Linked DNA regions of Homo sapiens. The protein of the gene in region 1 purifies or fractionates together with the protein of each later gene. This does not show direct contact. Each region holds a gene or a part of one and is shown on either strand. Other genes may lie near its edges.

Region 1 (3,819 bases):
TGAAGCTGGAAACTGTTTGGATTCTTGTGGAGCACTCTGACCTCTAACTCTCTCTATCATCTCTCTAGGAAACCGTATCACCCAAAACTGGAAGCTTTCATTAGTCACATGTCAAAAGGATCCGGAGCCTCTTTCGAAAGCCCCTTGAACTCCTTGCCTCTTTACCCAAATCACCCATTGTGTGAGATGGGAGAGCTCACACAGACAGGTATGTGTGACCCCCATGCGCTCAGGGGTTCCCCCACCCGCTCTTCTGCTTGCATACCTTCCGAGCAGTTCTCCTGGGCGGGGTGCTGTGCAGCTCAGAGGGGGTAAGCAAGGACTGGCTCTGCAAGGAGCTCGGTCACCAGGGCCTCTAAATAAACATCAGAGTTCTCAAAACTAAATAGAACCTTTCTCCTTCTTACAAAAACAATACGTGTTCATGAAAATAATTTAGGAAAGACAAGTAAAAAGAAGAAAAAGTTTAAGCAACCGTAATTCCACCACAGAAATAGACCCTTAAGAGTAACCCTTCTTCCTGTGCTTATGCACACACACACATCTTACTAAACACACTATTTCATAACCCACTTTTCCACTCAACAACACATTTTGTTAATATTTCCCTATGAATAACTGTTTATCCACTACATCATTTATGATAGCGCCATATTCTTTCACTCTGGATGGGCAATTGATCATTTATTTAACTAATCTCATGTTCTCAGATATTTCTAACAAAACTTCTAATAGGTTTTCATGTACAAGATCTCAGGGAGGAAAATGCATGGCACATTTCTACTGCATGTGGAGTTTGTTTGGCTGAGCTGAGTTCTCACAGAAGCACAGCTTTCCCTCCGCAGCCCTAGTCAGACCATGTGCAGTCAGTTCACCATCAGGGTAGGTTGGTGAGTTAACTGTGGAGTCACCTTTGCTGGGAATAGAGGAACAGGTGGTCCTTCAAGAGGTTTCAGTTTTCTGATTCTTCAATCTGGAACCTCAGAGGACCTTTGCCTGGTCACCAGCCTTTATGGGTGAATTGGGAAGACCCATTGGCCATGTTCTGTCTTCATCTTGCATCAGCATCTTAGGACTTCAGCAGGGATGGAGGGAAGGTCTCCATCCTATAGTAGGCCCTCTTAGGTTTTGCCATTATTATTGGGGAAATGATATTGGATAGACAGAGTGGAACAAGCTGAAGCCTCTGGAGGACTAGCCGTGGATAAGGAGTTGTGTCAAAAGCCTTTGGCAATTAGTTCCACATGCATTACTTTAGAACGAGGGTTTTCATCCTAGCAGATCCAACACCCCCTTTGATTACACAATTAACTATTTTGCAATCTCCCTCAACTATCATGAAGTGAAATTTAAATATAATGTAACCAGCCAGGCATGGTGCCTCATGCCTGTAATCCCAGCACTTTGGGAGGCTGAGGCAGGATAATCGTTTGAGCCTGAGGGTTCGAGAGCAGTCTGAGCAACATAGTGGAACCCCATCTCTACAAACAATTTTTTAAAATTAGCCAAGTGTGGTGGCATGTGCCTGTAGTCCCAGCTACTCAGGTGGCTGAGGCGGGAGGACCACTTGAGCCCGGGAGGTCAAGGCTGCAGTGAACCATGATCATGCCACTGCACTCCAGCCTGAGTGACAAAGTGAGGCCCTGTCTCAATGAATGAATGAATGAATGAATGTAATCTTTCTATGCAGTTAATTACTTAAAAGTTATACCAGGGTCCCCAGCGATAACAAATGAAAAGAAACTAATTTACTACCTAATTATATGTGTCTCTGTATAAATGCTTAAGAACAGCTACACTAGAAAATAGAATGAAATCTTCAAATGCTTGTACCTAAATGTGACTCTGACAACTACAAATGCAGATGATTGATGGATGCTGTATTGTTGACTCTTAATACCACATGTCAGGACATGGTTTTTCTGAAGTTCTGATCAAAACAAAATATAGATGTTCCTTAGTTTATATTGTATTTCTGGAAAATTCAGTGAACATTAATATTATACAAAAATGGTTTTGTGTTCTAGACACAAAAACAGAATTAGATTCTACAGTCTAAAGTATTCAAATATGTTTTGCACGTGATGGAATGTCTCATGCTGCATTCAAAAGTTGTGTGGGACAGAGACACGTGTCCCTTCTGGAGACCAGCCCCCCAGCCCCTACCCACTAGGTGCCAGGAATGCCTTTCCCCATACTATTGTGATAACTCCACCCCCAAGCCCTCTCTGAAGGCAGTAGCACTCTTGCTGAGAACTGCTGCTTAGATTCTCTGGTTAAAAATAACAGAAAACACCTCAAGCAAAAAAAGGAAATTTATTATAAGAATTCAGGAATGACTCACAGACTCTAAGATCAAGAGTGTGACCAGACCTCTAGAGACTGGAACCAGGAATAAAAAAGCTGTCTTGTCCCTGCCTCTCTCTCTAATTTTTTGTTGTGTCTGTCAACAAAATTACAGTCCCAGCCACACACACAGATGAACTTGCAAATCCAAATTCTTGAGAGAGGGAGAATCCTTGAGGTCCTAGGGGTTAGCATCCATCAGCCCTGGCTAACAGGTCAGGGTGACTGTGCAGAGAACAGGAGGTGAGGGCGCCAGTCTCTGGATCCAGGAGCTGCTACCTGAGAAGAGGCTGGGGGGTTGGCCCTCACACACCTAATCATTCATTCAGATCTTTCTTCTCAATTCATCTATCATCATCATCGTTTCTAAATTAGTGTTACTCTAGAAATCATTTTTGTAATACTGTCTGCTCCTGTTTCCTCATTCTCTTTTAATGGTCATTTTTATTTCTATTTTAAATATCATGAAAAATGCATGGCTGTTATAATCATCTTTTGTCCCTGGTGCACTTACGGCACCCTACAGTAACTATGTAAGGTAAGATTGCTCATGAGTGCCTACCCTGTTGAAGATGCTTTGGCAGCTGCTGAGTGTGAGAGGGTAGCAGGATGAATAGGACCCTCCTGCCTGTCCTAAAGAAGGCTGCAACTGCAGCACACAATGTGCGTGGAGACAACTGCCTGTAATGCCAGATACTGCAGGGCCTTAGAGAGTAAACACAGGCCTTGGAGTCAGACAGACCTGTAGCATGGGGAGGAGCCTGTCTTCCCAGTGGCTGGTGGTGAATTTGATGAGGTAGCATGTGTAGAGTGCCTAGTGCAGTGCCGGCATATGAGAGGCTCCCAATAAATGCAGCTGATGTTGTCATGGTCCAGCAGCATATGGGAAGAGGAAGGAATTATTAACTTGACCAGGGAGAAGAAGAAGGAAAGCACTACAGAGCAGGTAGTGTTGGAGCTTGGAGCCAGGCCCTGGGAGGATTTCCCTAGGGAGAGAAAGGGGAACGGTATGAACAAAGCCATGAAGATGCAGGCTATGTTTGGCAAGTATAAGAAGCCCTAAATAGCTAGAACTTTGTATTTCGGCATGAAAATGTAAGGGTCTAAGAGCATAAAATTAGGACCAGATGGGGTCTTGGGTTTTAGCTCTGCCACTTTTTAACTGTAAATGGTTCAGGGCCTTTGTTTCTTCATCTATAAAATAAGGAAAATATAAAATATAATAATATACCTTCTTCATTGGGTTTTTGTGAGGATTAAATGGGAAAGGCCTGGCACACAGTAAGCACTCTAACTTTATGTGGCCTAACCAAATAAAATAGGCCCCGCAGTGAACTAGGGTGAGACACGGAATCTAATGTTTGTCTCTCACGGTTTGCATGTTTTTTTGCAAAGCGTCTTGGAAGTGCTAAATCCTGTTCCAGCCTTTAGTTCCTGGGTTCCTGGGGGAGTTCTGTTCTCAATACTCTTCAT
Region 2 (3,819 bases), on another chromosome or scaffold:
TAATCCCAGCACTTTGGGAGGCCAAGGCGAGTTCGAAAGCAGCCTGGCCAACATGGTGAAACCCTGTCTCTACAAAAAATACAAAAATTAACTGGGCGTGGTGGTGCATGCCTGTAGTCCCAGCTACTTGGTAGGCTGAGGCAGGAGAATCGCTTGAACCCTGGAGGCAGATGTTGCAGTGAGCCAAGATTGTGCCACTGCACTCCAGCTTGGGCGACAGAGTGAGGCTCTGTCTCAAACAAAACAAAACAAAAAGGTTAACCAAAAAAAAAAAAAAAAAAAAGAAAATATATATATATATATATATATATATATGGTGAAATTTCTGGCAGGAGTGGATCGAGGTGCTCAAATGATGTCATCAGGAATCTCTTTTTGTCCCTGTTTCTCACCTCTGCCTTCCCCTCTTTAGTTTACTTCTCAGCAAGCTCTCCTCATATGAGAACAAGGATTGCTGCTGGCAACCCCACCTTCTGTTCTACCAGTTCAGTAACTGCAGCAGAAAGATAGCTTTTCTTTCTCATTAGTGCCAACTAGACCCAGGGCTGCCTGCCTAGCCAGAGGAATGAGTGCCCTTGTTATACCCTTGTTAACCACTGGGATCGTCTCCAGAAATAGGGGAGTGGGTGGGGCTGTCAGTCTCAACTGAACCACGTGAACTGAGAGGAGAGCTTCAGAAGATAATCACAAGGCTGTTACCCAAAGAAGGGCCGGAACAACAGATGTCTTGAAGACACTGGCTTCAGTCAAAACCCATTTCCTCTCCCTGGCTTTACTGGTGACATTGTGTCTGTGATAGCTGTTAGCCCTTTACCTTGCTCTAGAAGTTGTAAAGTAGATTGTTTCTATTTTTAATATCTGGTTAATTAATCTATCTGGGAAACTTGTTTTCTTGCATGGATATATTAATATGGAGCTTTGTTAAACACAGCTCAAGTGTGCCGTTATAAATCTTTCAGTGATGATCAAATATATACCTTTAACTTATATGGTGATTTGATAATTGCATTTGGTCTTTCTCTTGAGATCTAAATATTGTTCATTTTGTTAATGAATGTTATCACATTGTGAGAGAAAAACTTAACCTGACTTTTTTTTTTTTTTTTTTTTTGAGACGGAGTCTCGTTCTGTCTCCCAGGCTGGAGTGCAGTGGCGCAATCTCAGCTCACTGCAACCTGCACCTCCTGGGTTCAAGCGATTCTCTTGTGTCAGCCTCCCGAGTAGCTGGGATTACAGGCACCCACCACAACACCTGGCTAATTTTTGTATTTTTAGTAGAGACGGGGTTACACCATGTTAGCCAGGCTGGTCTCAAACTCCTGACCTCAAGCAATTTGCCTGTCTTGGCCTCCCAAAGTGCTGGGATTACAGACATAAGCCACTGCGCCTGGCCTTAACCATGCCTGCTGCCTCTCCAACAAGCTCTAGATCCACACTTCCTACCAGCTGCCTACACCGCATACCTGGCACCCTGCCTTCCTAAGACTCGGCCTTGTTCATCATGGCACTTTTCCGTTCCTAAGCCCAGATATAGTTTCAGAATAATTTCTCTAACAGTTTGGTGTTCCTCCAACTTTTGAGAGGACTGTCAGAAGATGGAGGAAGAACTTGACCCAGGACCTCAGCAGTCCTTTCCTGGCATTGGTCCCAGTTATGCTTATAGAGCCATTCTTAAGCAAATCTCTTGAAAGGAGAAAGGGGTTACTTTTAGACCAATCTGACCTACCTCTGAATCTCGGGACTGGTCTCCCAAATATTTGTTATGTAGGGGTAGGTTCCTTTATGGAAGAAGAATAGATAAGTGATGCTGGGTAGGCAGCTGGCTGTAATTGTCATGTTGAATAAGCACACCTTGTGGGATGTGTAGCCAATCCCTTTATTCTTTATCTTCCACTGGCTCTTTGTATTGTCTTGCACCCCTGCCCCTGGATGAAAATTCAGGTGGGCCTGATATTTCTGTGGTCACTTCACACTACAGAACAGAATGTGAATTCAGCAATTAGAGTCTTCAGTCCTAAAGCATAACAGAACTTAAAGCCTAAGTTCCTTCTCCCAGTACAGGCCTGCTGCAGGGAGAAAGCCTGCAGTGGAGGAAGGGAGGGTGGCCACAGTGGGCATCTTCTCACTTTTCATCACTTGATGATTCTCTTTCTGCTCTGTAACCTGTTTCTGATCCCTCCTGTGTTGGAGCACATGAAAGAAAGGAAGGAAATGAGGACAGGAAACTTCTTCCTGAATGAGTGCAGGAGCTCTCTGGGATGTTGTGCAGGTGTTAGAGCTTATTCTTTCTTTCTTTCTTTCTTTTTTTTGAGACGGAGTCTCGCTGTCGCCCAGGTTGGAGTGCAGTGGCGCGATCTCGGCTCACTGCAGGCTCCGCCCCCCGGGGTTCACGCCATTCTCCTGCCTCAGCCTCCCGAGTAGCTGGGACTACAGGCTCCCGCCACCTCACCCGGCTAATTTTTTGTATTTTTAGTAGAGACGGGGTTTCACCGTGTTAGCCAGGATGGTCTTGATCTCCTGACCTCGTGATCCGCCCGCCTCGGCCTCCCAAAGTGCTGGGATTACAGGCGTGAGCCACCGCGCCCGGCCAGAGCTTATTCTTTCTTGAGTGTTTTCAAGGGGCATCCTTCAGAGACCACAGCCACCGCCGTGCTCAGGAGTGGTCACCTGCTTTTCCCCTGATGAGACCAAATGCCTCTTCATTCCGTTTGGTTGCTTATTCCTTCCATAGATCCTAAGAATCTGATAATAATGGGAGCTTCTCATTTCAGCCTCTTTTGCCCAGTGAGTAGGCCCAGGGTGACCTTCTGCTGGTTCTTTGTTGTATGTGGCCCACGTCCTTTGCTCAGACTAGGGGAGGGTGGGCTGATTCCAGCGGAGTGACAACTTCTCTCTTGTCCTCAGAGCAATTAGCCAGCCAGCACTTTATATTTTTCAGGTGTTACACAGACATGGTACCCACCCAACTTCATGGACCCATAGTGAGTTCTCTTGGTAATTTTGTTGAGCCCTTTTCTTGGGCGTAAGGAAGTGGGAAACAGACTTCCACTGCTCCCCCTTGAATGAGGTGGAGCAGGCGTCACAGAATGCCAGCTACCTCTGAAAACCTCCTCTGATCGCCACCTCCTGGACCTTTCTACCATGATTTGGATGAGTCTGCAACTGTTCCTTAAGAAACTTTGCATCTTGGCCCAACACTTCACTTTGGAATGTGGTATCTTGTATTTTGCTGCCTCAGAAGAAACTTATTTTTACATGCACAGCTTCTCAATTTGGTTACCAGTTAATTGAGCTTGCCTGGGAGATGAAACTTATTTGCTATTTCTGTGCTCAGCATCCTGGTCACAAAGATGGAATCTTCCTTATCTTCAAATCCCTGTGCCCTGGCAGAGTGCCTGCCTCATTCATTCAGTGACTACTTAATTTTTGAGCACTGTACCAGGCCCCTGGGGATCCAGCAGTGAACAAAGCAGACTTGGCTCCTGCTGACAAGGAGCTTATATTCTGGTGGTGCAGTCAGACATTAACTGCCACTTCATTACTATTGTGAGAAATGCTGTAAAGAAATAGAGCATCGTTGTGGAAGAGACCAGCAGTGAGAATCAGTTTGGTCTGGTGGCAGGGGATCAGGAGATGCTTGCTTTTTTTTTTTTTTTTTTTTTTGAGACGGAGTCTCACTCTGCCGCCCAGTCTGGAGTGCAGTGGCCACTATCTTGGCTCACTGCAACCTCCACCTCCTGGGTTCAAGTGATTCTCCTGCCTCGGCCTCCTGAGTAGCTGGGATTACAGGCTTGCACTGCCACGCCCAGCAACTTTTTA

What was found.
Region 2: the proteins of PXYLP1 (region 1) and GNPTAB purify together in Homo sapiens (affinity purification with mass spectrometry; 2 studies listed by BioGRID and IntAct, with this or other methods). This does not show direct contact.

What each region holds. Positions count from the first base shown.
Region 1 is NC_000003.12:141,287,246-141,291,064, forward strand, and holds part of PXYLP1 (2-phosphoxylose phosphatase 1), read left to right. Parts: intron 1-68; coding exon 69-208; intron 209-3,819. UniProt on the Homo sapiens protein: Responsible for the 2-O-dephosphorylation of xylose in the glycosaminoglycan-protein linkage region of proteoglycans thereby regulating the amount of mature glycosaminoglycan (GAG) chains.
Region 2 is NC_000012.12:101,820,902-101,824,720, reverse strand, and holds part of GNPTAB (N-acetylglucosamine-1-phosphotransferase subunits alpha/beta precursor), read left to right. Parts: intron 1-3,819. UniProt on the Homo sapiens protein: Catalyzes the formation of mannose 6-phosphate (M6P) markers on high mannose type oligosaccharides in the Golgi apparatus.